Linked DNA regions of Homo sapiens: all the other regions are reported to be linked to region 1. Evidence: microRNA targets listed by miRTarBase, many of them from high-throughput screens and not tested one by one. Region 1 holds a microRNA gene; each other region holds the end of a gene's coding sequence.
What was found. Region 1 holds the annotated microRNA hsa-miR-6515-5p (UUGGAGGGUGUGGAAGACAUC, at 3,344-3,364, opposite strand). A microRNA usually pairs through its seed, bases 2 to 8, with sites in the 3' UTR of a target mRNA and lowers its output. Matches are read on the target gene's strand: a 7mer-m8 pairs with bases 2 to 8, a 7mer-A1 pairs with bases 2 to 7 and ends in A, and an 8mer does both.

Region 2: the mRNA of CD200R1 is a reported target of hsa-miR-6515-5p. Seed matches in the 3' UTR shown: 8mer at 5,581-5,588 and 7mer-m8 at 5,131-5,137.
Region 3: the mRNA of KCNQ5 is a reported target of hsa-miR-6515-5p. Seed matches in the 3' UTR shown: 7mer-m8 at 4,279-4,285.
Region 4: the mRNA of IMMP2L is a reported target of hsa-miR-6515-5p. Seed matches in the 3' UTR shown: 7mer-A1 at 595-601.

The regions. Positions count from the first base shown.
Region 1 is chr19:12,936,729-12,943,849 of GRCh38, reverse strand. It overlaps MIR6515 (microRNA 6515), which reads right to left and starts at 3,366; the gene lies at 3,310-3,366. CALR (calreticulin) reads right to left here and starts at 5,241. Exons shown (of 9, transcript NM_004343.4): 1 at 5,080-5,241; 2 at 4,615-4,716; 3 at 4,219-4,422; 4 at 3,703-3,797; 5 at 3,398-3,607; 6 at 3,196-3,309; 7 at 2,963-3,106; 8 at 221-313; 9 at 1-137. The coding sequence starts at 5,170. RefSeq lists enhancers at 2,794-3,421, 2,758-3,957, 4,850-4,899, 4,194-4,943, 5,570-5,619 and 2 more and a cis regulatory region at 5,001-5,639.
Region 2 is chr3:112,917,262-112,924,382 of GRCh38, forward strand. CD200R1 (CD200 receptor 1) reads right to left here. Exons shown (of 8, transcript NM_138806.4): 8 at 3,944-6,538. The coding sequence ends at 6,416. Among named protein-coding and RNA genes, the nearest start is that of CD200R1, 54 kb to the right of the region's middle.
Region 3 is chr6:73,194,807-73,201,927 of GRCh38, reverse strand. KCNQ5 (potassium voltage-gated channel subfamily Q member 5) reads right to left here. Exons shown (of 14, transcript NM_019842.4): 14 at 3,075-7,121. The coding sequence ends at 6,514. Among named protein-coding and RNA genes, the nearest start is that of KHDC1L, 27 kb to the left of the region's middle.
Region 4 is chr7:110,657,008-110,664,128 of GRCh38, reverse strand. IMMP2L (inner mitochondrial membrane peptidase subunit 2) reads left to right here. Exons shown (of 6, transcript NM_032549.4): 6 at 408-1,485. The coding sequence ends at 527. Among named protein-coding and RNA genes, the nearest start is that of LRRN3, 430 kb to the left of the region's middle.

The DNA.
Region 1 (7,121 bases):
TCCTCCTCATCCTCATCTTTGTCCTCATCATCCTCCTTGTCCTCTGCCTCCTCCTCCTCTTTGCGTTTCTTGTCTTCTTCCTCCTCCTTAAGCCTCTGCTCCTCGTCCTGTTTGTCCTTCATTTGTTTCTCTGCTGCCTGCAGGCAGAGCACACACCTCAGGGCCTTGCCCCCTGCCAGCCCTGCCCGCCCCCGACATCAGGACCAGGACCAGGCCTCACCTTTGTTACGCCCCACGTCTCGTTGCCAAACTCCTCAGCGTATGCCTCATCGTTGGTGATGAGGAAGTTGTCAAAGATGGTGCCAGACTTGACCTGGAGGATGAATGGGAAGGATGGTCAGAGGTGATACCCGATAGCCCTTGCTTTGGACAGGGTTTCCACCTGTGTTCCTATAACCACTATATTCTGCTGCCTGCATCTGCAGAGAAGACAAGGAACACCGCTGACACTGCAGTTAAAAAGATGGAGAGGCCAGGTGAGGTGGATCACGCCTGTAATCCTCGCCCAGAGGCCAAGGTGGGCGGATCACGAGGTCAGGAGATCGAGACCACCCTGGCTAACACGGTGAAACCCCGTCTCTACTAAAAATACAAAAAATCAGCCAGGCGTGGTGGCAAGTGCCTGTAGTCCCAGCTATTTGGGAGGCTGAGACAGGAGAATGATGTGAACCCAGGAGGCGGAGCTTGCAGTGAGCCAAGATCGTGCCACTGCACTCCAGCCTGGGTGACAGAGTGAGACTCCATCTCCAAAAAAAAAAAAAAAAAAAAAAAAGATGGAAAGATGGAGAGACAGCCAGGGACGGGACGGGCTCATGCCTGTAATCCCAGCACTTTGGGAGGTCATGGCGAACGGATCACTTGAGGCCAGGAGTTCGAGACCAACCTGGGCAACATAGTGAAACTCTGTCTCTACTAAAAAAAATTAGCCCGGGGTCTGTGATGGCGCATCCCTGTAATCCCAGCTACTCAGGAGGCCGAGGCAGGAGAATCGCTTGAATCTGGGATGCAGAGGTTGTGGTGAGCCGCCGAGATTGCATCATTGCACTCCAGCCTGGGCAACAAGAGTGAAATTCCATCTCAAAAAAAAAAAAGCCCAGCGTCGTGGCGCATGCCTGTAATTCCAGCTGCTCGAGAGGATGAGGCATGAGAATCACTTGAACCTGGAAGGCAGAGGCTGCAGTGAGCCGAGATCAAGCCACTGCACTCCAACCTGGGTGACAGAGCAAGACTCTGTCTTAAAAAAAAAAAAAAAAAAAGATGGAGAGACTCAGGTGCTGTACTGCCCAGGTTCAAACCCCAGCTTTGTGGTTTCCTACCCCCATGACCTTGGGCCACTGACTTCAGTTCTCTGCACCTGTTTCTTGTTTCTCACTCTCTTATTCAGGTATTTTTCAGGTACCTACTACATGCCAGAACTGTCTTGGGCACAGAAGGTATTTCAGTGACCAAAACAGACAAAAATTCAGTCCCAGCATTTTTTTTTTTTTTTGGGACAGAGTCTCGCTATCACCCAGGCTGGAGTGCAATGGCATGATCTCAGCTCACTGCAAGCTCCGCCTCCCGGGTTCACGTCATCCTTTTGCCTCAGCCTCCCGAGTAGCTGGGACTACAGGCGCCCACCACCACACCTGGCAAATTTTTTGTATTTTTACTAGAGATGGGGTTTCATTCACCATGTTAGCCAGGATGGTCTCCATCTCCTGACCTTGTGATCCACCCGCCTTGGCCTCCCAAAGTGCTGGGATTACAGGTGTGAGCCACTGTGTCCGGCCAAGTCCCAACTTTTTTTGAGAGGGTCTCACTCTGTCACCGAGGCTGGAGTGCAGTGACATAATCATGGCTCACTGCAGCCTCGATGCCCCAGGCTCAAGTGATCATCCTTCTTCCTTGGTAGTTGGGACTACAGGTATGCATGACATCTCGCCAATTTTTAAAGTTTTTGTAGAGGCTAGGCATGGTGGCTAACCCTTGTAATCCCAGCACTTTGGGAGGCCGAGGCGGGCAGATGACCTGAGGCCAGGAGTTCGAGACCAACCTGGGCAACATGAAGCCCTGTCTCTACAAAAAGGCTGGGTGAGGTGGCTCACGCCTGTAATCCCAGCACTTTGGGAGGCCAAGGTGGGTGGTTCATGAGGTCAGGAGATGGAGACCATCCTGGCTAACACGGTGAAACCATGTCTGTACTAAAAAAAAAAATACAAAAAAATTAGCCAGGCATGGTGGGGGGTGCCTGTAGTCCCAGTTACTCGGGACCCTGAGGCAGAAGAATGGAGTGAACCTGGGGGGTCGTGCGGAGCTTGCAGTGAGCAGAGATCACACCACTGCACTCCAGCCTGGGCGACAGAGCAAGGCACGGTCTCAAAAAAAAAAAAAAAAAAAAAAATTAGCCTGGCATCCATAGTAGCACATGCCTGTAATCCCAGCTACTCCGGAGGCTGAGGCAGGAGAATCGCTTGAAACCAGGAGACGGAGGGCGCAGTGAGCTGAGATCGTGCCATTGCACTCCAGCCTCAGCAACAAGAGTGAAACTCTGTCTCAAAAAAAAAAATTTTTTTTGTAGAGATAGGGTCTCCTCGCTGTGTTGCCAAGCTAGGTTGAGTTGTGTAACTCCTGGCCTCAAGCAATCCTCTGTCTCAGCCTCCCAAAGTACCGTGATTGTAAGGGTGAGCCACTGTGCCCAGCCCCAGCTAACTAACTGGGTTACCTGACCACCTTCTAGGTCTTTGGGGGTAAAGAAGTTGATTTGCATAAAAGTACTTGGGGAAGTACTTGGTGCACAGCAAGTATAACCTTAAAGGGGTTGCTGTGAGGACTTCACAGGGACAGACCAGGAAGTACTGTTTACAAGAAGTACCATTTTTGAGTCAGACTCACCTGGGGTGCCTACCCTGTCCCTTTCCTCTTGGGTGATCTTATGCACTTGAGGTACCCCAGGGATCCTCCTTTTTCCTCCAAGTCTCACCTGCCAGAGGTCCAGGCCCAGCACGCCAAAGTTATCATAGGCATAGATACTGGGATCGGGAGAATACTCGGGGTTGTCAATTTCTGGGTGGATCCAAGTGCCCTTGTAATCTGGGTTGTCGATCTGCCGGGGCTTCCACTCACCCTGCAGAAGGGAGAAGGAAACCGAAGGGTGAGTAAGGTTGGTGCACTCCCCACTGTGAGCCCCAGCCCTGCTCAGAGCCCCAAACTCACCTTGTACTCAGGGTTCTGAATCACTGGGGGTTCCCACTCTCCGTCCATCTCTTCATCCCAGTCCTCGGGCTTCTTAGCATCAGGGTCAGGGATATGCTCGGGCTTGTCCCAGTCCTGGGGGGTAGATGAAGAGATCAGAGTTGGCCCAGATGTCTTCCACACCCTCCAATGTGGAGAGCAGAGCCCCTGCCCAAACACCAACCTCAGGCTTGGAGTCTGTGGGATCATCGATCTTGGCCCGCTCATCCCAGTCTTCCGGTTTTGAAGCATCAGGATCCTTTATCTTCTTGGGTGGCAGGAAGTCCCAATCGTCTTCCAAGGAGCCGGACTCCACCTGGCTGTTGTCAATCTTCACCTCATAGGTGTTGTCTGGCCGCACAATCAGTGTGTACAGGTGTGTAAACTCATCATCCTGAAGAAGGAAGAAGGTGAGCGGGGGCCACCCCCCAATGAGGCTGACCTCTGAATCTCCCCATGACAGCCATTTGCCACCACCCCCAGGCACACCTTGCAACGGATGTCCTTGTTGATCAGCACGTTCTTGCCCTTGTAGTTGAAGATGACATGAACCTTCTTGGTGCCAGGGCCACAGATGTCGGGACCTAGGTGTGAAGCAGATCCAGTTAAGAGTCAGAGACTACCCATCATCTCGAGGCTCTCACCCCTCTTTATAAAAGGAAGACCTGGTTCTTCAACTCGGGTCTGTCAAGGCTGAGAAGAGAAACTCAGACCCTGATTCTGTCCTGAATGGGCTGTGGGTGGAGCCTTAAGTTTAAAGGAGAAAAAAAAAAAATCAGTGCTCTAGAACTCAAAATCCTCATTAGTAAGATTGGGAAATAACTATATACAAACACGCAAATTAAATTAACAGCCTAGATCTGCGATCATAATGCAATAAATTGTTGCTGGGACTTATTCTTTTAGCTCCCCTTCCAAAAAAAATCATTATTAAGAAAGTCAATGGGGTCTGGGTCTCCCTCTAACTAATGGGACAGAGATCAGCACCAGGAAGCAGGCCCTCACCAAACATGATGTTGTATTCTGAGTCTCCGTGCATGTCTGTCTGGTCCAAACTATTAGGAAACAGCTTCACATAGCCGCCCCCACAGTCGATGTTCTGCTCATGTTTCACCGTGAACTGCACCACCAGCGTCTGGCCTTTGTTGCTGAAAGGCTCGAAACTGGCCGACAGAGCATAAAAGCGTGCATCCTGGCTTGTCTGCAAACCTGAGACGGGACGGTAGTGAGGTCACCGTTGGGCCTTGACTCGCGAGGACCCTCGACTTAGAGAATAGAGAAGACTCCCCCACTTCCTCCACCTGTCCTCCTCCAAGGGGACTGTCCCGGCTGTGTGTGTACAGACAAGGACTTCTGCCAGGAAGTCCTCCCGGATCTGAGCACCCACTCCTAGGCTCTTACCTTTATCTTTCTCCTCGTCACCGTAGAACTTGCCGGAACTGAGAACGAATTTGCCAAAATCTGACTTGTGTTTGGATTCGATCCAGCGGGAAGTCCACCCGTCTAAGTGGGGGATTAGAGGGGTAGGTCAGAGCGGCTGTGCTAATCCCCCCCCACACCAAACATCTGCCGAGAGCCACAAGCTGCTGGGGACAGGAAAGGAGATCCCCGACACTCCCCATTCCAACCTCTAGTTTGACACGTCGGGTGCCTTCAGAGATCCTCGGGCTAACCCTAACTCCCGCCGCGGGAGGCCGCTACGCCCTCCGCGCTCCCCAGGGACGCAGAAGAGAAATCGCCCGCGGCTCTAGTCCCGGGAGGCCACCGTGTTGGACCTCTAAACGGTAATTACGGGCGACAACGCAGATCCAGGATCGGGGGCCGGCCGCGTCGTCGGGGCGGCCTCGAGGCGGGACCAGGCGTTACCTCCGTCCAGAAACTGCTCCTTGAAGTAGACGGCAGGCTCGGCGACGGCCAGGCCGAGGAGGCCGAGCAGCAGCGGCACGGATAGCAGCATGGCGGGCCGAGGGGGCGGCAACGCGCGGGCCCTTTAAAACGACCCTCCGGCAGCGGCTCTGCAGTACGGACGGACGCCGCCGCCCGCCTTGCACTTTTATACCCACCCGCCTCTCAAACCAACCTGACCCAGCCCTTGGGCCCGCCCCTGCCACTTTGTCATTGGTCTATGCCCATGGCCGTCTTTTTCCATTGGACCTTCGTCGGTTCACTATGTTAGGCTGCGCCTCGGAACGCTGGGTTCCCAGATGGCCGATTTCTATTGGCCTCACCACCGACCAATGATGGTCGACCACGCGTGGGGGGGACGCCCACTGGTGGGGTGGGGGCCGCGAGCACCTCAGGCCAGGTCATGTGACCAGACCTGAACCCAACCCCGCCCTCGTCCGCGCGCGTCGTTGCCCATCTGGGCGTTTAAAGAAACCGCGGGAGCGCAGCTGTCTCCACGCGGGACCGGGACCCTGCCCTCAGCTTCTCTCCCTCCCATTCCCTCTAGGTGGAGGGGCTGGGCAAGGCTTTCTTAGCCAGCTCTTATCTTGCATTTGAGAACCAGCACCCCACTGCTGCTCCCCCACCCCTGCCTGGGATGGGAGAGAGCTCACGGATTGGGGCCCTTGGGGCTTCGCTGCACCCCGGTGCTACAGTCACGCGGGCCGGTGGGAAGAATGCCAGCCCTCTCCTCCTTCTGCCCCTAGAGCCCTGGCAGCCTATCGGACTGCTGCTGTGTGACCGGGGCAAGTCACTTAAGCTCTCTGAAGTGACAGACGTTCCTGAGCAGACAGAGGGGGCGACCCTGGCCAGATGCTACCCAGCAGAAATGCTTTTAACGTTTTTAAAGCTGTCCTGGGACAAGAGGGGAGGAAGGCTTAACGATGTGACTGTGACTTCTGGAGTGGGGATAGGGTTATTACCCAGATTGCAGCCGCCCCTTTACCCTCCTCTCAACCGGTAAATGAAGGGGGTCGCTGTCTGTGGTCTCCCACAAACGGCCTGGCTTTTGCAATTAAACGGCTATAGGCAGGCGAGAGGGCAGGGGGTTCCGTTTGGGGAGGGAAAAAAGACACAGATGGTAGGGACGATAAGATGCTAGGGAGATGGGCAGGACCCACCCCCCGACCCCAGTCTAGAGTCTTCTTCAGAAGCCAGAGGCACGTGACTGGCACCAGTACCCTGCCCCCACGCTGTAGAAAGGAGGAAGGAGAGCTGGGGGTTTTCCAAACTCTGGGCAAATAAGCCCTGGACCTGGGAGCGCGGGAGTGGACTATGGAAGGAGGGAATGAGGGGGATCCAGGAAAGAGGGTGGGGAGGGGGTGCTTCCTGGCTAATGGTTGTGACTCAGAAAAGAGAGGAAGGAAAAAATGAAAAGGAAAATAAAGTGGAGTGGGGGGAATGACTTGGCAAGGGTCTCTGGTTAAAAAAAAAAAAAAGAAATGGTGGCCGGGCGCAGTGGCTCACGCCTGTAAACCCAGCACTTGGGGAGGCCGAGGCGGGCAGATCATTTTAGGTCAGTTCGAGACCAGCCTGGCCAACAAGGTGAAAACCCATCTCCACTAAAAATAAAAATAAATAAATAAATAAAAATTAGCCAGGCGTGGTGGCGGGTGCCTCTAATCCCAGTACTCGGGAGGCTGAGGTGGGAGAATCGCTTGAACCTGGGAGCCAGAGATTGCAGTGAGCCAAGATCACGCCACTCCACTCCAGCCCACCAGCCCAGGTGACAGAGCAAGACTCCATCTCGAAAAAAAGACGGGGGAGAATGAACTGGGAAGTTGGGGTTCTACCACTTCCTCTAGGTAGTATTCAGTATTGCCTAGTCTGGTCCCCCCCATGAGGATCCCGGGGACCATCCCAGGCCTCTTGCTGACCCTTCCTCCTGTTCCTGTGTCAGGCACCTGTGGGCTTGGCGCTTCCTACTTGAGGTTAGACACTGCCTGTTTTGTTCACTTCGCATC
Region 2 (7,121 bases), not on the chromosome of region 1:
AGAAAATCAATGAATCCAGGCCAGGCACACTGGCTCATCCCTGTAATCTCAGCACTTTGGGAGGCCAAGGTAGGCAGATCATGAGGTCAAGAGATCAAGACCATCCTGGCCAACATGGTGAAACCCTGTCTCTACTAAAAATACAAAAATTAACTGGGCATGGTGGTGTGTGCCTGTAGTCCCAGCTACTCAGGAGGCTGAGACAGGAGAATCGCTGTAACCCAGGAGGTGGAGGTTGCAGTGAGCCAATATCATGCCACTGCATTCCAGCCTGGTGAGAGAGTGAGACTGTCAAAAAAAAAAAAAAAAAAAAAAAAAGAATCCAGGAGCTGGTTTTTTGAAAAGATTAACAAAATAAAGAATAAAAGAGAGAAGACTCAAATACATACACAAAAAAAAAATGATAAAGGGGATATCACCATTGATTCCACAGAAATACAAACTACCATCAGAGAATACTATAAACACCTCCACACAAATAAACTAGAATATCTAGAAGAAATAGATAAATTCCTGGACACATAGACCCTCCCAAGACTAAACCAGAAAGAAGTCGAATCCCTGAATAAACCAATAACAAGTTCTGAAATTGAGGCAGTAATTAATATCCTACCAACCAAAACATGCCCAGGACCAGCCAGATTCACAGCCAAATTCTACCAAAGGCACAAAGAGGAGCTGGAACCATTCCTTCTGAAACTATTCCAAACAATAAAAAAAAGAGCAACTCCTCCCTAACTCATTTTATGAGGCCAGCATCATCCTGACACCAAAACCTGGCAGAGACACAACAAAAATGAAAATTCCAGGCCAATATCCCTGATTAACATCGGTGCTAAAAATCCTCAATAAAATACTGGCAAACTGAATCCAGCAGCAGCACATCAAAAAGCTTATCCACCACGATCAAGTCAGCTTCATCCCTGGGATGCAAGGTTGGTTCAACATAAGCAAATCAATAAACGTAATCCATCACATAAACAGAACCAATGACAAAAACCACATGATTATCTCAATAGATGCAGAAAAGGCCTTTGATAAAATTCAATACCCCTTCATGCTAAAAACTCTCAATAAACTAGGTATTAATGGAACGTATCTCAAAATAATAAAAGCTATTTATGACAAACCCACAGCCAATATCATACTGAATGGGAAAAAGCTGGGAGCATTCCCTTTGAAAACCAGCACAAGACAAGGATGCCCTCTCTCATCACTCCTATTCAACATAGTATTGGAAGTTCGGGCCAGGACAATCAGGCAAGAGAAAGAAATAAACCGTATTCAAATAGGAAGAGAGGAAGTCTAATTGTCTCCATTTGCAGATGACATGATTGTCTATTTAGAAAACTCCCATCGTCCCAGCCGAAAATCTCCTTAAGCTGATAAGCAACTTCAGCAAAGTCTTAGGATACAAAATCAATGTGCAAAAATCACAAGCATTCCTATACATCAATAATAGACAAACACAGAGCCAAATCATGAGTGAACTCCTATTCACAATTGCTACAAAGAGAATAAAATACCTAGGAATACAACTTACAAGGGATGTGAAGGACCTCTTCAAGGAGAACTATAAACGACTGCTCAAGGAAATAAGAGAGGACACAAACATATGGAAAAAGATTCCACGCTCATGGATAGGAAGAATCAATAGCATGAAAATGGCCATACTGCCCAAAGTAATTTATAGATTCAATGCTATCTCCCTCAGGCTACCATTGACTTTCTTCACAGAATTGGAAAAAAGCTACTTTAAATTTCATATGGAACCAAAAAAGAGCCCATACAACGAAGACAATCCTAAGCAAAAAGAACAAAGCTGGAGTCATCACGCTACCTGAATTCAAACTATACTATAAGGCTACAGTAACCAAAACAGCATGGTACTGGTACTAAAACAGATATATAGACCAATGGAACAGAACAGAGGCCTCAGAAATAATGCCTCACATCTACAACCATCTGATTTTTGACAAACCTGACAAAAACAAGCAATGGGGAAAGGATTCCCTATTTAATAAATGGTGCTAGGAAAACTGGCCAGCCATATGCAGAAAACTGAAACGGGACCCCTTTCCTACACCTTATACAAAAATTAACTCAAGATGGATTAAAGACTTAAACCTAAGACCTAAAACCATAAAACCCTAGAAGAAAACCTACACAATAACATTCAGGACATAGGCATGGGCAAAGACTTCATGACTAGAATACCAAAAACAAGGGCAACAAAAGCCAAAATTGACAAATGGGATCTAATTCAACTAAAGAACTTCTGCACAGCAAAAGAAACTATCATAAGGGTGAACAGGCAACCTACAGAATGGGAGAAAATTTTTGCAATCTACTCATCTGACAAAGGGCTAATATCCAGAATCTACAAGGAACTTAAACAAATTTACAAGAAAAAAAAAACCCATCGAAAAGTGGGCAAAGGATATGAACAGATGCTTCTCAAAAGAAGACATTTATGCTGCCAACAAACATATGAAAAAAAGCTCATCGTCACTCGTCATCAGAAAAATGCAAATCAAAACCACAATGAGATACCATCTCACGCCAGTTAGAATGGCGATCATTAAAGTCAGGAAACAACAGGTGCTGGAGAGGATGTGGAGAAATAGGAATGCTTTTACACTGTTGGTGGGAGTGTAAATTAGTTCAACCATTGTGGAAGACAGTGTGGCAATTCCTCAAGGATCTAGAACTACAAATACCATTTGACCCAGCAATCCCATTACTGGGTATACACCCAAAGGATTATAAATCATTCTACTTTAAAGACACATGCGCTCGTATGTTTATTGCAGCACTGTTCACAATAGCAAAGACTTGGAACCAACTCAAGTGCCTATCAATGATAGACTGGATAAAGAAAATGTAGCACATATACACCATGGAATACTATGCAGCCATAAAAAATGAGTTCATGTCCTTTGCAGGGACATGGATGAAGCTGGAAACCATCATTCTCAGCAAACTAACACAGGAACAGAAAACCAAACACCGCATGTTCTCACTCATAAGTAGGAGTTGAACAATGAGAACATATGGGCACAGGGAGGGGAACATCACACACTGGGGCCTTTTGGTGGGTGGGGAGCTAGGGGAGGGAGAGCATTAGGAGAAACACCTAATGTAGATGATGGGTTGATGGGTGCAGCAAACCACCATGGCACGTGTATACCTATGTAACAAACCTGCACCTTCTCCACATGTATCCCAGGACTTAATATACCTAATGCTAGATGACGAGTTAGTGGGTGCAGCGCACCAGCATGGCACATGTATACATATGTAACTAACCTGCACAATGTGCACATGTACCCTAAAACTTAAAGTATAATTAAAAAAAAAAAAATAAATAAATAAATAAAATAAAGTATAATAATAATAAATGAAACTAATCTGAAATTAAAAGTTTACTTTAAAAAAAATTAAAAAAAGAAAAGAAACAAAGATTGGCAAGTTCTTTAAAAGTGAAACATCTACATATCATCTGATCTAGCCAATCCACTCATCAGTATTTGCTCAGGAAAAATAAAAATATATGTCAACAAAAATACTTGCAAAATAATGTGTATAGCAGCTTTATTTCTAATAACCCAAAACTGGAAACAACACAAATGTCCACCAACAGGCAAACAGATAAACAAACTGGTATAGCTATAAAATTAAATACTATTTGGAATAAAAAGAATGCAGTATCATTGTGTGGATGTGGATGTATCTCAAAATAATTATAATGAGAAAAAAAGTCCAACCAAAAAAATAAAAGAGTGTCTATTGTGATGATATTTACATGATTTTATTTATGGAAAATTCTAAAAAATGCTAACTAATACATAGTTACAGAAAGCAGATCAGAGGTTGCCTGGGGAGCGGGGGATGAGGAGGAACAAGAAGTTTGTAGGGATAGGCTCACAAAGAAACAAGAAAATTTTGGGGGGTGATGGACAAGTTTATTATCTTGATTATGCTGATGGTTTCACAGATGTAAAACTATGTCAACATTTACCAAAGTCCACATTTTAAATATGTGCAAAATTTAACAAACTGTACACTTAAATATATCAATTATATCTCAGTAAAGCCGTTTTCAGAAGTTTGTAAGTGAAGCATAACCCCAATAGATATTTAGTTATGATGAATTACTTTCAAATTATTAGAGATATTGAAAGAGAGAGAGACAGAGAAAGAGAGAGAAAATTGACAAATCTAGCAAAGCAAAGGAAAAGATACAAAATGGGATGGGGAGAAAGCACAGTAAATGAGACATATAAAATGTTATTTGTAAAATGTAATCGACTATGTAAGTAATCACACCTAACTCCGTCTCAGCCTCTGCTTCCTGGATGACCTTGCTGACACGCCAGGTCTAATCTCTAGATTCTCTAATTTGACAGGTCTAGCGTGGATTTGGAGAATATATATAATTTTTTATATCATTCTAATGTTCAACCATGTTCCAGCCCCATAGTAGAGATTTTCATACAATTATTTTCTGTACAATATAATTTAACTTCTATAAATTATCTTGAAGTCTTTTCTATGATGTCATTTAACATGCCTGTTTTGACATTATCAAGTTAAGAGGTAAGCATAGTACTGTCTTACTTTGTTTTTCAGTAATATTTAAACAGATAGTCTTGAACCTAACTATGAGCCTCAGCTCAACCAGGGTTGGATGAAGAATTAATAAATTTCAAGGACAGTGTAATGATGTCTATTGTGAACATTGCTTGGTAATATTTATATGCAGAAACCTAATGGACACTGCTTTTTGGTCAAGTCAAAATGGCTTGATCAAAATATCATGTGCCAAGTGTCATTAGATTAGCTTTACATCCAAAATAGACTAAAAGTCCCTTTGAGGACAAAATCCATAGTAACTGAAATGTCTAGAGGGAGAAAAATATACTTATAAGACAAAATAGCTGTCTTAAAAATCTCAGATGGTATGATTGAAGAATGAATATATTTTGTTTCAATTTCTATCATGATGAAAAAACTTCTCATGTTTTTTCTGCTATGGAGCAAATAGACTTATGTTTTTAATTAAAAATAATTTCATGATATTAACAATGATTTACATAAACATTGCCAATATTTTGCTCCACAAAAATATGGAGGGGAGGGTCATGCCATCCCATGGCCACTTGCTTATTATGTAGCTCATAGTTTGTAAATAAATACCCCATGTCCTCTATGGTGCATTTTTCGCCACTTATATGGTCAATAGACATTAATTATTCAATAAATATATCACAATAGAATGTACACCATAAAAATACACAATTCCAATGTAGCACATCTGCAAAACTGTTAGGCATCAAGTATCAACACCTCTGTGGAGATATAATGAGTTCAGAAGAAGCTAATGTTCTCACACGTGCATTCACTCTCTTACAAACATGACCAAAAATATAAATCCATTTTTATTAAATAGTATAATTCTTATTATAATCTCACATCATATTTAATCTGGTTGATTAAAAAGAGAAAGTGGCAACTGTAGAAGCAGGAATAGTACAGTTATTAAAATAGAAATTTAGGGAAAGGCACATTTAAACAATGTTGGAGGGAATTTGACATATATATTTGACACAATTTAACATATATATCAATAGTAAAATGCACAAACCCTTTGACCTGACAATTCCACTCAAGAAAGTTATCCTACAGATATACTCAAAAACAAAGAGATATATGCACAAGAAACATTCTATGTGGTATTGTTTATACCACAAACAAAACTTAAAAGAAATAAACAAAACTTAAAAGAATCTAAATATCCATCATTAGGGTTGTTTTTAATTAAATAATGATATAACTATACAATGGAATTTTATATAACCATTAAAAAGAATGAGGTAGCTCTACTTGTCATGATATAAAATGATCTCTAAGACTTATATTATTAGGTTTTCATATGTATAGAACAGTAATGCAGTGTATTGTTCCCACTGGTGCCTTGACAAAGATATGTGCATGTATATGTAAGGGGACACATAAATTGACACATATACCATAGGCATATACACATGTCATATGTACATTAAAATATTCTGAAAGGATACACAAGAAACTGTTCACACTTGCTCCTTCTTCAGTTATTTCTTGAGGAAATTTGGTTTTCATTATTTACTGTCCTGCACAATTTGAATATTTGGTCATGGGCATGTATTTTCTTTGTAATAACATCAGTTCTTCAGAGAACTAGCTGGTAGCAGCTAAGAATCAAAAATTCCAATTATACAAGGGTATGAATGAGAATCCATTAAAATGTCTTCTAAGAACCTTGGAAAACCTAATTTCAATATAAGTCTTCATTCTAGAACTGTAAGAAAATCAGACAGTAATTATAATGTATCTCGTTTGTTGTTGTTTCTTGGTACTAGAGTCCAACAACTTATAAAGTATGGAGGTCTGTGTCAACTTCACTTTGTAATGCCTCAGATGCCTTCACCTTGTTTGTAGTATCATAGAGAGGATTGTTCTTCTCTGTGTAGCTGGCATAGGGCTGCATTTCATCCTAAGAAAGAACTCAAAGTTAAAATCAATTCAAAAAATCATCATAGAGACTATCTGTATTTTTGTAACAGTTGCCCATAGCTTTAGTATTTCTAACAGGTGCTCAAGAGTGCTTATAATTGTGTTTCTGGGCCTATATAAACATAAGAGCAGGATTTGTTCTAACATTTTATCAAAAAGTATTTGTTAACTACATAAGTCTCTGTGTGGAGATAATGGCTCTGTGCAAGTAGGAATGGAGATGAATGAAGTGATATGAGTACTCCAAAGGAGAGCTTTGGAGACTTAGTAAGCTACTTATAATAAGAGATGAAGGAGCAGGATATGTTTTAAGTTTGTGTAAGAGAAAAATAATGATAGTATTGAAAAGGAAAAGTCAGGAATTAGAGATGCTTTCAAATTGGTGACAAGAAACACCAATTCATTTCCTCAAAAGATTACAGTCTAAAGGAGCCAAACATCATATGTGTTAGGATATAGTTCATGAAGTGAAAATGTGGTTCAGAGTGATGATGTATAAATAGTATTTGATAGATAATTAACAAAGTAATCACACATATAAGCACTGCAAGTCAGAACTGTTT
Region 3 (7,121 bases), not on the chromosome of region 1:
CAGAGTGGAAGAGTTAGTTTACCCTAAAGGCAAGGAGTGGCCAGGCGTGGTGGCTCATGCCTGTAATCCCAGCACTTTGGGAGGCTGAGGTGGACGGATCACCTGAGGTCAGGAGTTCAAGACCAGCCTGACCAACATGGTAAAACCCCATCTCTATTAAAAATACAAAAATTAGGCCAGGCGTGGTGGCTAACGCCTGTAATCCCAACACTTTGGGAGGCGGGGGAGGGTGGATGACCTGAGGTCAGGAGTTCAAGACCCAGCCTGGCTAACATGGTGAAACCCCGTCTTTACTAAAAATGCAAAAATTAGGTGGGCATGGTGTTGCATGCCTGTAATCCCAGCTACTCCGGAGGCTGAGGCAGGAGAATTGCTTGAACCCAGGAGGTGGAGGTTGCAGTGAGCTGAGATTGCACCATTGTACTCCAGCCTGGGCAACAAGACCAAAACTCCATCTCAGAAAAATAAAACAACAACAACAACAACAAAAAATAAAACCCCAAAATTAGCCAGGCGTGGTAGCACACACCTGTTATCCCAGCTACTAGGGAGGCTGAGGCAGGAAAATTTCTTGAACCCGAGAGGTTGAGGTTGCAGTGAGCCGAGATCGTGCCACAGTACCCCAGCCTGTCTCAAAAAAAAAAAAAAAAAAAAAAAAAAAAAGAGAGCAAGGAGCTCCCATCCTGGAGTGGGGTTTGCCTCCTCTCCCACCAAGCAAGCAGAGGGATTTCTGGTAGCGGGGGTAGAACTGGGCATTGCAGCATTGGCCAGAGGGCTCAGATGAGGAGCGCCAGTGCCAGCACTTCTGAAAAGCATCTATGTGTTGGGGGTGTGCATGGTGTGATGTCCTCATGGCTTAAGTGAGGGTGAGTGGCACCCTGAGCTGCAGCAAGGGGAGGGTGTGAGTACCTAGTTACTTGGGGGGCACAGGAATGGATAGGGATTGGTGATACAGGAAGTGAGTCACAGCAATGCAGGCAAAGGAACAGAGAAGGAAGAAGCAGCAAGTAATGGAAAGAGATGAGTGTCACCAAAGATAAAAAAAGCTGCTGTGCACGGTGGCTCATGCCTGTAAATCTTAGCACTTTTAGAGACCAAGGCGAGTGGATCCTCTGAGCTCAGGAGTTTGACACCAGCCTGGGCAACATGGTGAAACCTCGTCTCTACTAAAACACAAAAAATTAGCCGGGCATGGTGGTGTACACCTGTAATCCCAGCTACTCAGGAAGCTGAGGCACGAGAATTGCTTGAACCTGGGAGGTAGAGGTTGCAGTGAACTGAGATTGCACCACTGCACTCCAGCCTGGGTGACAGAGAGAGAGACTGTGTCCAAAAACAATCAAACAAAACAAACAAACAAACAAAACCAAAAAAACCTAAAAAAGCATACAAGTGAAAAGTTCTAAAAGTAGGTGCAGGTGTTATGACAGTGTATGGAAACCCTAGAACCCTGATATCTATCCTAGAGCATACTGGACTTAAAATAGTCGCCAACATTGTGACAGAAAAGAAGTAAATCATATGACTAGGCAAAGAGTAATATATCATATCAATGTACCTTTGACCTTCCTATTTATTTGAACAGGAAAGTTTTGCCATTCACCAGTTTTTGTGGTGCTGTGATTTCCAGAGCAGTGCCTAAATCGATAGTTTGTGCATAATGTATCTGCTACGTTTCTGTTTTGAAATGTAGCAAAAACTTCAGTAATTTGGAATTAGGTGGGCTAGAGGGAGAAGTCTTGTCGCAGTTAATGAAAATTTGTTTTATTTAATTAATTAGTTTATTTATTTATTGAGATGGAGTCTCACTCTGTTGCCCAGGCTGGAGTGCAGTGGTGTGATCTCTGCAATCTTGGCTCACTGCAACCTCTGCCTCTCGGGTTCAAGCAATTCTCCTGTCTTAGCCTCCTGAGTAGCTGGGACTATAGGCGCACACCACCACGCCTGGCTGATTTTTGTACTTTTAGTAGAGGTGGGGTTTCACCATATTGGTCAGGCTAGTCTTGAATTCCTGACCTCAGGGGATCCAACTACCTCGGCCTCCCAAAGGGCTGGGATTACAGGCGTGAGCCACTGTGCTCAGCCTATTTTTATTTTAAAAACATTTTTAGATTTCTATTTTGTTTTCAAATCTCAGAGCTGTGTGAGATAAAATTTAAGTTTTTCAAAGAAACAATTTTTACTTGTACCAGATTCTCAAAGCAGTTGAATCTAGACTGATAGAAGTTGTCACTTGAAGATCTGGCAGCCCATTTTCATGAATGGTTAGGATAGAATAACTGTTGTAAGTATATTTTGCTTTAAATGGAAGGAGTGGGAAGTACTGCTAAAGTATTTCCAAAAATGTTTGGAAGCGGTTTAACATTTTTAAGTTGGTCAAGCAAGCATATACCATACACAATTTTCTTTTCCCTCATCTAGAAGTTGATAGAACAGGCACATAACTATTTGATCTCTTTAGAGCAGTAGTGGGAAGCCCTTTCTTCCCTCTAGGATAACACTCTGTAATTCTTCCTCCTGTCTAAAACATCTCTATCGGGCTTTGTTGCTTTGTATTCCAGAGTTTTAACATTCTGTATCTCTTTGAAAATAATTCCACTGGGATTAACCCTTGGCACTTAGTGCAAAATTGCTAGTGAAATAGAAAAAATGGGATTTTTTTTAGGGAAGAAGAAAAAAAGGTCCTTTTGGAGCAGAAGCCCTTCCCTGGTGAGGCAGAGCTGGGTAGGTGCTTAAAATGGTAGTTCTGAGTAGCCAGAGGCTGCAACATTTGGGCACCCACCTGGCCCCCATTTCTTAACATTGTTTAGCAAATCCCTTTATTATAGATAACACAAAACTCACATGCGTGGTATCTGAGTTACAATCAATTTCAAATTAATAGTTCTCACAAAAACCCCAGGAGCATATGCAAATCTCCCCCCTTCCCAAAATACCAAAGACTTCTTCCGTAACACTGCAAAAAGATAATTTTTATATTTCAGTCCAAAATCTGTATACAGTCAGTTTGGTTGACTTGGTCCAGTCAGTTCAGAACCAACTAGTTAGTTCCAGATAAAAATAGTCACACTAGCTGTTTATAGACATCTTTTTAATGTTTTACTTTAAAACAAATAATCCCAGTAAAAGAGAGCAAAGGAAATTACACTTTAATGATAGCTTGAAATGGATATGGTGTTCCCGATTTATTTGTTTTCAGGAAACAGACAATTGCATTGTCATACATGACTTAGAACTGCTTACTTAAATGCACATTATTAGATTAGATTAAGTTTCTCTTACAAAAACACAACCATGTCATTTAAGGCGAAAAATCTCAGCTTCTAGGGAGACAAGTTAATATTTATGATATTTCCTCTATCTGATTTAGTGAAATGATCCATTAATTTAGTTAGCCAGGTTTCATCATCCTTACAGTTTTGCTTTGCAAATGGCATGAGAATTGGTCAATTTGTGCCTGATTTCCTCCTCTCTAGTAGACTTATTTTACTTGCAAATTAAGAACTTCAGAATCACTGAATCAATGGGAGGTGAGAAAGGCACCTTAGAACAGATCAGGACTTAAAAACTCAATAAAGTTATTTTAAACAAAACTTGCAATCTACAAATATTAATTTAGTTGAACAAAATGCAAACATGTAGATCAGACATAGCAAAATTTTTTTAGTTAACCTCATACAAGGGATATTTGCAATTAAGTATTAGCTTGATCAACCCTACATGTTGAAGAAGGCAGACACACTTGTACTCAGAAAGCATATGGCTACTCAGTGCTCAGCTAAATTGTGCTTCAAGACATCATTAAAATTGACCAATGGAAATTTGCTTAGTGTAAATGGGAGACCCCTCTCATTTCCACAGAGAGTAACACGACAGACAGAACCTTATAGCTTCCACACAACTATCTTTTAACATCCCCCAATTTTTGTGCTAGAGTAAGATAGACACAAAATGGTCATGGCTTCAATGTATAAAAGTTTTTCACAACATGGTTTATCACATTTTGCTATGATTAAGACCTCAGTGCTGTGTGTAGGTTTTGTTTCTGAATCTTCAGTCGTCAGCAATGCTGGGTGAGCTGTACTGTGTTTGAGACTTAACGAGGCCTAAGGAGGGGTCCCCAATACATTCAGAATTCCTGCTGCCAGTGGGGTTTGACCCAGGACAGAGTATGTCCAAGAATCAGTGCTACCTGAAAGTTGCTGCCTCCCTCCTCTTCCTCTGTTAATAATGGGAGAGAGCCTGCCCAGTCACGGCAGGTGTCTGGCTTTAGGTCAGTGGAGGGGTGTGTGTGTGTGTGTGTGTGTGTGTGTGTGTGTGTGTGTGTGTGTGTGTGTGTGTGTGTGTATGCAACATTCTTGCAAGGGGGAATCACAACTTCAGGTTGAATGAAGATGAAAAATTGATTTTCATAATTTACTAACATTCTGTATTTTGAAAATGAAAACAATTGCTTAAAAGGATTGACAATGTCTTAACTGAAGTGTAAAATTTAGCCTCTATCTTCTATACATTTCCAGCAGCCAAAAAGATTCTAAATGATTCTAATTGTCTTAGAATCCAAGTGGGATGCGAAGAGGAAGCTTTAAAAATTTCCATGTTTATCAAAAGGGACAAGGTTCTAAAAGGTTGAGAAGCACATTTTAGGTAAAGCGGAGAACTGGTTGACCTGGGGATGGAGGCTGGTTAAGGCCTGGTGAAGTTCAGAAGCAAAATACTGGCAGGGAATGAATAAGGAGTTAATGAAGAAGAAAAGCAGGGGAGAGTCAATGATGGAGAAAGCCTGTTGGGGAGGGCTGGGGAGGATTGGTGGAGTTCAGGGCCTCCTTCTTCCTTTGAACATCCACTTGATAACCCTGCTCATTCTGCTTGGCTGCTGGAGAAGTACTTCTGGAGGCAGCATTTATGTCTGCCAAGGAAACAACTTCCTTTCTTGAGTCCTCCTGTGGCTAGGGTTTAATTGAATTGAAATGCTATCTCTTATGTCCTTTTTTTTTGAATGTCATTACGTTGGCTGAAGTTCTGGTGACCTAAGATAGCTAGATGGGTTTCTAACAAGCAGTCAGCATTGCTTGCTTTCTGATAAATACATTTGTCATTTTGTTTCCCTTGGTCTTTTTGCTGCCATGATATATTTAAGTGTTCTGATTTGCAGACTCTGCCAGTACTATCTAGCTTCTAATTGTAAATGTTTATATCAGGAAATTGAACCAGTAATTTCAGATTTGGGACAACATTCTTGGGAAGAATAGAAAATTTTCACTACAGTATAAAAAGTAAAGGAAGTTTCGTTTTAGACTTTCATATGCAAAATGTACACATAATAGCAAAAGACATTCAGGGCATATTAAAAAATAAATACCTTGCAAAAATTCTCTGCTTATATATAAGAATAAGGGAAGATTAGGTAGTTGAATTCCCTAGCAATACTCATTTTCTAAAAAGTCTAGTTCTTCTATTTTGGTTTGTTTCTCTCCCTCTCATTGCCCTTTGAGGGGGAAGTCATTTTCTTTTACTTTGCCAACTTCCTGGTGGTGTTTCTGGGTTCTTTTCAAGCCTTTCCTATCTCAGTCCCACTCAAATGTCCCATCCCCCATAGTCCTACCTGTATGTCAGCGAAATGAGAATAGCTTCTCACACTTGCCCTTTACATAGGCAGTATTGGCAAGCCTGGGGTTGGCGCCATTGCAGAGAAACCAGTCCAATCACAATGGCTGTTCTACTGACCAGTATTTCATACGCTTGTGTAGAAGTTGACCACTTATAAAGTTGATTCTGCCATCAGGCAATATGTTTTCATAAAGTCAAATATGTCAGATAGTCTATTTGCCTCACTGGCCCTGAATTTCATTATTTGCACATTTTCTAATTGAAGAACATTCTTGTCATAAAGAACAACATGAAAATGATGTGCAAAATTGCTTGCCACAGCGCTAAATCACCAAAAGCACACAAATTGACATTCAAATTACATTAATAATAAAATGACTGAATAGGAATGGGTTGGCAAATATATCTTGAAATAAGCAGCCATTTCTATTATTCCCCAATTCTGCTTTAGTTGATACCTTATTAGCAGCTGTTGATAGCCATTGTGTTTAAATATACATTATGGCCTAATCTTGAAAATGTAGTTTGTATTTAGTCACAAAGCAGAAATGCCTGAAATTTGAAGGTGTTTACTCCCATAATTTCAAAATACAGTGTCAAATCTTCTAAATGACCTAAACTTGACATATTCATACACCCCATAGCATTAGCTGTGTTTGGTTTCTCAGGCTTTTTAACTCAAGGTACATTACTAAATGAGTGGGTTAATGTCGATGCACCTTGGAATTTTAGCCATCCCTAAACATGCATTTTCATGCAATTAAAAGGTAACGGGCTTATAAACTGCCTTTCATGTTCTTCCCGATTCTTGCAATTTCAACTTTTTAGAAGGGCTTTCGAAATAGTTCATGCAATGATATGTATGGCTAAAGAACTGCTATGCCTGGAAAGAAAATGAAGAACTTATTTCAGTTTGACATGAGGCAAGCTGAGGGCATCTGTACTTTCTCCTGCCTTACAAATGCTCTGAGATGATCGTGACCTTCCAGTCCTTAGAGAGTCTGATGCAAAGGCAGCTTCCCTGGCAGGCTGCGGTGCGGCATCAAAAGTGTCTGTCTCTGTCTCTTCGGGACCCACCTCTTCATCAGTTATAAACAATTTGGATTCCCTCCATTTGGGGTAAAAATCTTGGCTGCCTCTGGAGCCACTTGACTCACTCCCTGAAAGTTGTATATTCAGTTCCTCGGTCGACCTGATCAGGTTTTGCACAGACAAAGATTTGCCCAAGTCCTTCGGCACCATGGGACAGACAGACAACAGAGTTTCTCCTCCCATGTCAAAGCTTTTCCTCATAGAACGGTCCTTGGTGAGATTTGACTGTGCAACCTGAACATTTTCCTTGGAGGCAACAAGGCAGGTGGTGACGTCAGAAATGCTTTCCTGTAAGCCTGCAGGGTTAGGGTGCAGAGTTTCTGGCCTGGGCAGATGCTTGATGGCTGGGAGAGGAGGTGGGATCTGTAAAGTTGTTGGGGCTGCTGGCTTGGGTGCCGTATTTATTTGGTTTGCAATGG
Region 4 (7,121 bases), not on the chromosome of region 1:
TAGGCTCTTGAGGCTAATGGTTAAGATGGTGGACTCGAGTCAAACTGCTTGGTTCTAAACACAGACTAACCGCTTGGTAGCTGTATGAATTTTGGCAAATTTTTTAACCTCTTTGAGCTTTGCTTTCTCATTTCTAAAAGGGAAATACTAACAGAACCTACTTCAAATGGTTTTTGTGAGGATTAAAGGAGTTTATATACAATAGCACCTAGAAAAATGCTATATAAGTGCTTACTGTATTTTTCTTTGTATTTCAATGGCTACAAAAGGTGTTTACTATTTTTTTTATTCATCATCACTTCTCCCTGGGATGTTAAACCTGGATTAAATTCTGCTTTCAAGCTATTAATAATGATTCTTATAAAATGATCTCTTTATTGCTTTCTTTCTGTTTCTCATGAATTAAGGTTTCCCTAGGACTTCTGCATGCCCATGCCACACATATCCTGTGGCCCCCAGAGCGCTGGCAGAAATTGGAATCTGTTCTTCCTCCAGAGCGCTTACCAGTACAGAGAGAAGAGGAATGACTGCATGAATCTACCTGAGTTGCTGGCATTGGGAGGCCAGTTACTGGAAAGGAATGGAAAAAAGAAGCCTCCAAAAGGGAAAAACTTCTGACAATATGATGCTGTGCGAGAAATATTTACAGCACATTAAAACGATCTGTATTATTAAATAAATAATTTTCAAATGTTAAACAGTATTAAATGGCACCTGATTTTGTGTTAAATTTTAGTTCCCTGTTGTTTAATGCCCCCAAAATATGCAGACCTTTGGGAATATAAAAATATTGCACCCACATGTCTTAATGGGGCTGAATTTCAGATTATTTGTTACATATACTTATTATATTGATTGTTGGGTTTTGATTTTGGTGCTTGCTGCTGAAATAAATTGAAAATTAATATTCAATAAAAATGATGTATTTGTCACTTGCTGTTAAGGTAGAACAAGAAGGAACACATATTATACACATAATGATGGGAATTACATTGTGATTTGTACTATCTACAAAGGAGTAACTGCCAGTTAGGAAGAACAGTAAACAGTGATGTTAAAATAAAACAATGATTTGCTAAGGTCCTGTTTTGAGTATTTAATTCTCATTGAGTACATCCATTAATGAGGAATTTCTTATCTCTTCTGAAAATAAGGAATCAAAGTAATGGAGAACCCATTCTGTCGACACTTGCATACAGTCAAGCCTTTCTTATTGGCCCTTTGTAATCCAACATTTCTGAGTGATCTCATGCCTATTCACAATGATGGGTAAACCCCTTTATCCGCATTTAGTCATACTATGTGTTTAAAAGTTCTGAGTGAAATAGAAGAAAAAACAGTCCAGATCAGCCACGTTTGATTTTCTTCCCCTAATTATTTCTCAGTATTCACGTCTGTAATACTGAAATCACCAATTGCAAAGTTACAGTAGAATCATAGAGTCTGTAATTTGTATGGATAATGGAATAAATTCCCTGCATCTAAGTCCATGTTTATGAAAGCTTCTTTTTCTCCCATTGGTTAGAGGTTTGTGTAAATTATTATTAGCATAATCATATTCAACAAATATTAATGAGCACTTACATACTAATGTTGGACAGAATTTTTTTTAAAACAGATCTGCTTAAAATTTTTCTGTGGCTCTTCATTGCCCTTCTCAATTCTTCAGTTCCATTTTCTCTTTTCCCCAACTCGAACTTCATACCCTGGCTTTTAACTGCAGTTTACCAAATACTGCTATTTCAAAGCTTGTAATTTTTTTCTTTCTTGGCAAAGTGCATCCCTTGGAATTATGTGTAAAATGTTTAGTACATAAGGGTATTGACTCTTTACTTGCTGGAACACAGGAGGGTCTATGGGTCATATAGGAGGGGATTGGGAGTACTGAGGGGAGGTAGAGTAAAGAACAAATAGACAGGTGCTGGTAGTGACTGCTATTTACCACTGGTATAGAAGAGTTCAATATTTTAACAGTTTACCCCATTGGCTATCAGCCTTGCTACCTTATTGACTACCCGTGCCATTGTTACTCGAACTATTCATTCAAGATTGTATATCTTTGGAGGGAAGGTAAATGCTCTTTCTATTCAATTTTCTATTCACTAGCCATCCAGCACATCACCAGCAGAGTTAATGCCTAATGCTTGTTGAACAGCTCAGCTGACTAGTTACTTCCTCAGGAATACATCCCCAGGCAAAGTCACTGCTCTACCTGGTATATACCTTCATTAATGTATCACTCTGCATGTTAATGATTCGTGTACATACTTTCTCCCCTACTAGACTGTGAACTAGTAGTCTAATCTAGAGCAGGGTTTATCTTGCTCAACTTGGTCATACGATTGCTCATAATTGACAATAAAATCCTGTCCAATCAATGTATGAATCCTAGGCACTGTGTTAAGGACAGGAAAATCAAAGTAGATAAAACAAAGGTTCTCATAGTCGACTGGTGGGGGCAGGAGGAACTGTAAAGAGGCAAAGAGTTAACATACAATTCCGCAGTAGGTATAGAGCATGGAATAGGTGCAATGGGAGCAGAAAGGGCTGTAAATCTGATTGTGCCTGGGGAAATAGGGATGGGAGAAACCACCACAGGAGGGGTGCCACGGGCTGAGCCTTCTAGGATGAATGGAGTTCCCCTCCTGTGAATTATAAATTTAATCTGTATAAACGATTTCAGTTACTTAAATAGTTTCCTCTCAAACATTACTGCTAGTTTACTGTTCAGGGTGTAGTGTGTGTATTATGTTTTATACATTTAATTTGTAAAATGTGAAATAATGATTGTACCTCAGGAATATTGAGATTTGTAATTAATTTTTTTTCACTTTTTACAACAGTCATTTCAAACAATTTTACCAAGTAACTTATAAAAATGTGTTATATATCGGATGTTCCAAGATGGCCAAATAAGAACAGTTGCAGTCTACAGCTCCCAGCATGAGCAATGCAGAAGATGGGTGATTTCTGCATTTCCAACTGAGGTACTGGGTTTCTCTCACTGGGACTTGTCGGACAGTGGGTGCAGCCAACAGAGCAGGGCGGGCATCGCCTCACCCAGGAAGTGCAAGGAGTCAGGGAATTCCCTTTCCTAGCCAAGGGAAGCCATGACAGATGATACCTGGAAAATCGGGACACTCCCACCCTAATACTACGCTTTTCCAATGGTCTTAGCAAATGGCACACCAGGAGATTATATCCTGCGCCTGGCTCACAGGGTCCCATGCCCACAGAGCCTCGCTCACTGCTAGCATGGCAGTCTGAGATCGAACTGCAAGGTGGCAGCAAGGCTGGGGGAGGGGCGTCCACAATTGCTGAGGCTTGAGTAGGCAAACAAAGCAGCTGGGAAGCTCGAACTGGGTGGAGCCCACTGCAGCTCAAGGAGGCCTGCCTGCCTCTGTAGACTCCACATCTGGGGGCAGGGCATAGCTGAACAACAGGCAGCAAAAACTTCTGCTGGCTTAAACATCCCTATCTGACAGCTTTGAAGAGAGTAGTGGTTCTCCAAGCACAGAGGTTGAGATCTGAGAACGGACAGACTGCCTCCTCAAATGGGTCCCTGACCTCCGAGGAGCCTAACTGGGAGACACCTCCCAGTAGGGGCCGACTGACACCTCAAACAGCTGGGAGCCCCTCTGAGATGAAGCTTCCAGAGGAAGGATCAGGCAGCAACATTTGCCGTTCTGCAATATTTGCTGTTCTATAGCCTCCACTGGCGATACCCAGGCAAACAGGGTCTGGAGTGGACTTCCAGTGAACTCCAACAGACCTGTAGCTCACGGTCCTGACTGTTAGAAGGAAAACTAATAAACAGAAAGGAAATCCACACCAAAACCCCATCTGCACATCACCATCATCAAAGACCAAAGGTAGATAAAACCAAAAAGATGGGGAGAAACCAGAGCAGAAAAGCTGAAAATTCTAAAAATCAGAGCAGCTCTTCTCCTCCAAAGGAACACAGCTCCTCGCCAGCAATGGAACAAAGCTGGATGGAGAATGACTTTGATGAGTTGAGAGAAGAAAGCTTCAGACGATTGGTAATAACAAACTTCTCCAAGCTAAAGGAGGATGTTCAAACCCATCGCAAAGAAGCTAAAAACCTTGAAAAAAGATTAGACAGATGGCTAACTAGAATAAACAGTGTAGAGAAGACCTTAAATGACCGGATGGAGCTGAAAACCATGGCACGAGAAATAACTTAATGCATGCACAAGCTTCAGTAGCCAATTTGATCAAGTGGAAAAAAGGGTATCAGTGATTGAAGATCAAATGAATGAAATGAAGTGAGAAGAGAAGTTTAGAGAAAAAAGAGAAGAAATGAACAAAGCCTCCAAGAAATATGGGACTATGTGAAAAGACCAAATCTACGTTTGATTGGTGTACCTGAAAGTGACGGGGAGAATGGAACCAAGTTGGAAAACACTCTGCAGGATATTATCCAGGAGAACTTCCCCACCCTAGCAAGGCAGGCCAACATTCAAATTCAGGAAATACAGAGAACGCCACAAAGATACTCCTCGAGAAGAGCAACTCCAAGACACATAATTGTCAGATTCACCAAAGTTGAAATGAAGGAAAAAATATTAAGGGCAGCCAGAGAGAAAAGTCAGGTTACTCACAAAGGGAAGCCCATCAGACTAACAGCAGATCTCTCAGCAGAAACTCTACAGGCCAGAGAGAGTGCGGAGAGGGGGGCAATATTCAACATTCTTAAAGAAAAGAATTTTCAACCCAGAATTTCATATCCAGCCAAACTAAGCTTCATAAGTGAAGGAGAAATAAAATACTTTACAGACAAGCAAATGCTGAGACATTTTGTCACCACCAGGCCTTCCCTACAAGAGCTCCTGAAGGAAGCACTAAACATGGAAAGGAACAACCAGTACCAGCCACTGCAAAATCATACCAAATTGTAAAGACCATCAAGGCTAGGAAGAAACTGCATCAACTAACAAGCAAAATAACCAGCTAACATCATAATGACAGGATCAAATTCACACATAACAATATTAACTTTAAATGTAAATGGGCTAAATGCTCCAACTGGACAAAGAGTCAAGACCCAATGGTGTGCTGTATTCAGGAGACCCATCTCGTGTGCAGTGAGACATATAGGCTCAAAAAAAAGGGATGGAGAAAGATCTACCAAGCAAATGGAAAACAAAAAAAAGCAGGGTTTGCAATCCTAGTCTCAGATAAAACAGACTTTAAACCAACAAAGATCAAAAGAGACAAAGAAGGCCATTACATAATGGTAAAGGGATCAATTCAACCAGAAGAGCTAATTTTCCTAAATGTATATGCACCCAAAACAGGAACAGCCAGATTCATAAAGCAAGTCCTTAGAGACCTACAAAGCGACTTAGACTCCCACACAATAATAATGGGAGACTTTAACACCCCACTGTCAACATTAAACAGATCAACGAGACAGAAAGTTAACAAGGATATCCAGGCATTGAACTCAGCTCTGCACCAAGCAGACCTCATAGACATCTACAGAACTCTACACCCCAAATCAACAGAATATACGTTCTTCTCAGCACCACATCACACATATTCCAAAATTGACCACACAGTTGGAAGTAAAGCACTCCTCAGCAAATGGAAAAGAACAGAAATTTTAACAAACTGTCTCTCAGACCACAGTGCAATCAAACTAGAACTCAGGATTAAGAAACTCACTCAAAACTGCTCAACTACATGGAAACTGAACAACCTGCTCCTGAATGACTACTGGGTACATAACGAAATGAAGGCAGAAATAAAGATGTTCTTTGAAACCAATGAGAACAAAGACACAATATACCAGAATCTCTGGGACACATTTAAAGCAGTGTAGAGGGAAATTTATAGCACTAAATGCCCACAAGAGAAAGCAGGAAAGATCTAAAATTGACACCCTAACATCACAATAAAAAGCACTAGAGAAGGAAGAGCAAACACATTCAAAAGCTAGCAGAAAGCAAGAAATAACTAAGATGAGAGCAGAACTGAAGGAGATAGAGACACAAAAAACCCTTCAAAAAATCAATGAATCCAGGAGCTGGTGTTTTGAAAAGATCAACAAAATTGATAGACCGCTAACAAGACTAATAAAGAAGAAAAGAGAGAAGAATCAAATAGATGCAATAAAAAATGATAAAGGGGATATCACCAACAATCCCAGAGAAATACAAACTACCATCAGAGAATACTGTAAACACCTCTACACAAACAAACTAGAGAATCTAGAAGAAATGGATAAATTCCTGGACACATACACCCTCACAAGACTAAACCAGGAATAAGTTGAATCCCTGAATAGACCAATAACAGGCTCTGAAATTGAGGCAATAATTAATAGCCTACCAAACAAAAAAAGTCCAGGACCAGATGGATTCAAAGCTGAATTCTACCAGAGGTACAAGGAGGAGCTGGTACCATTCCTTCTGAAACTATTCCAATCAATAGAAAAAGAGGGAATCCTTCCTAACTCATTTTATGAGGCCGGTATCATCCTGATACCAAAGCCTGGCAGAGACACTACAAAAAAAGAGTATTTTAGACCAATATTCCTGATGAACATTGATGCAAATATCCTCAATAAAATACTGGCAAACCGAATCCAGCAGCACATCAAAAAGCTTGTCAACCACGATCAGGTTGGCTTCATCGCTGGGATGCAAATCTGGTTCAACATACACAAATCAATAAATGTAATCCATCATATAAACAGAACCAAAGACAAAAACCACATGATTTTCTCAGTAGATGAAGAAAAGGCCATTGACAAAATTCAACAGCCCTTCATGCTAAAAACTCTCAATAAACTAGGGATTGATGGGACACATCTCAAAATAATAAGAGCTATTTATGACAAACCCACAGCCAATATCATACTGAATGTGCAGAAACTGGAATCATTCCCTTTGAAAACTGGCACAAGACAGGGATGCCCTCTCTAACCACTCATATTCAACGTAGTGTTGGAAGTTCTGGCCAGTGCAATCAGGCAGGAGAAAGAAATAAAAGGTATTCAGTTAGGAAAAGAGGAAGTCAAATTGTCCCTGTTTGCAGATAACATGATTGTATATTTAGAAAACCCCATCGTCTGAGCCCAAAATCTCCTTAAGCTA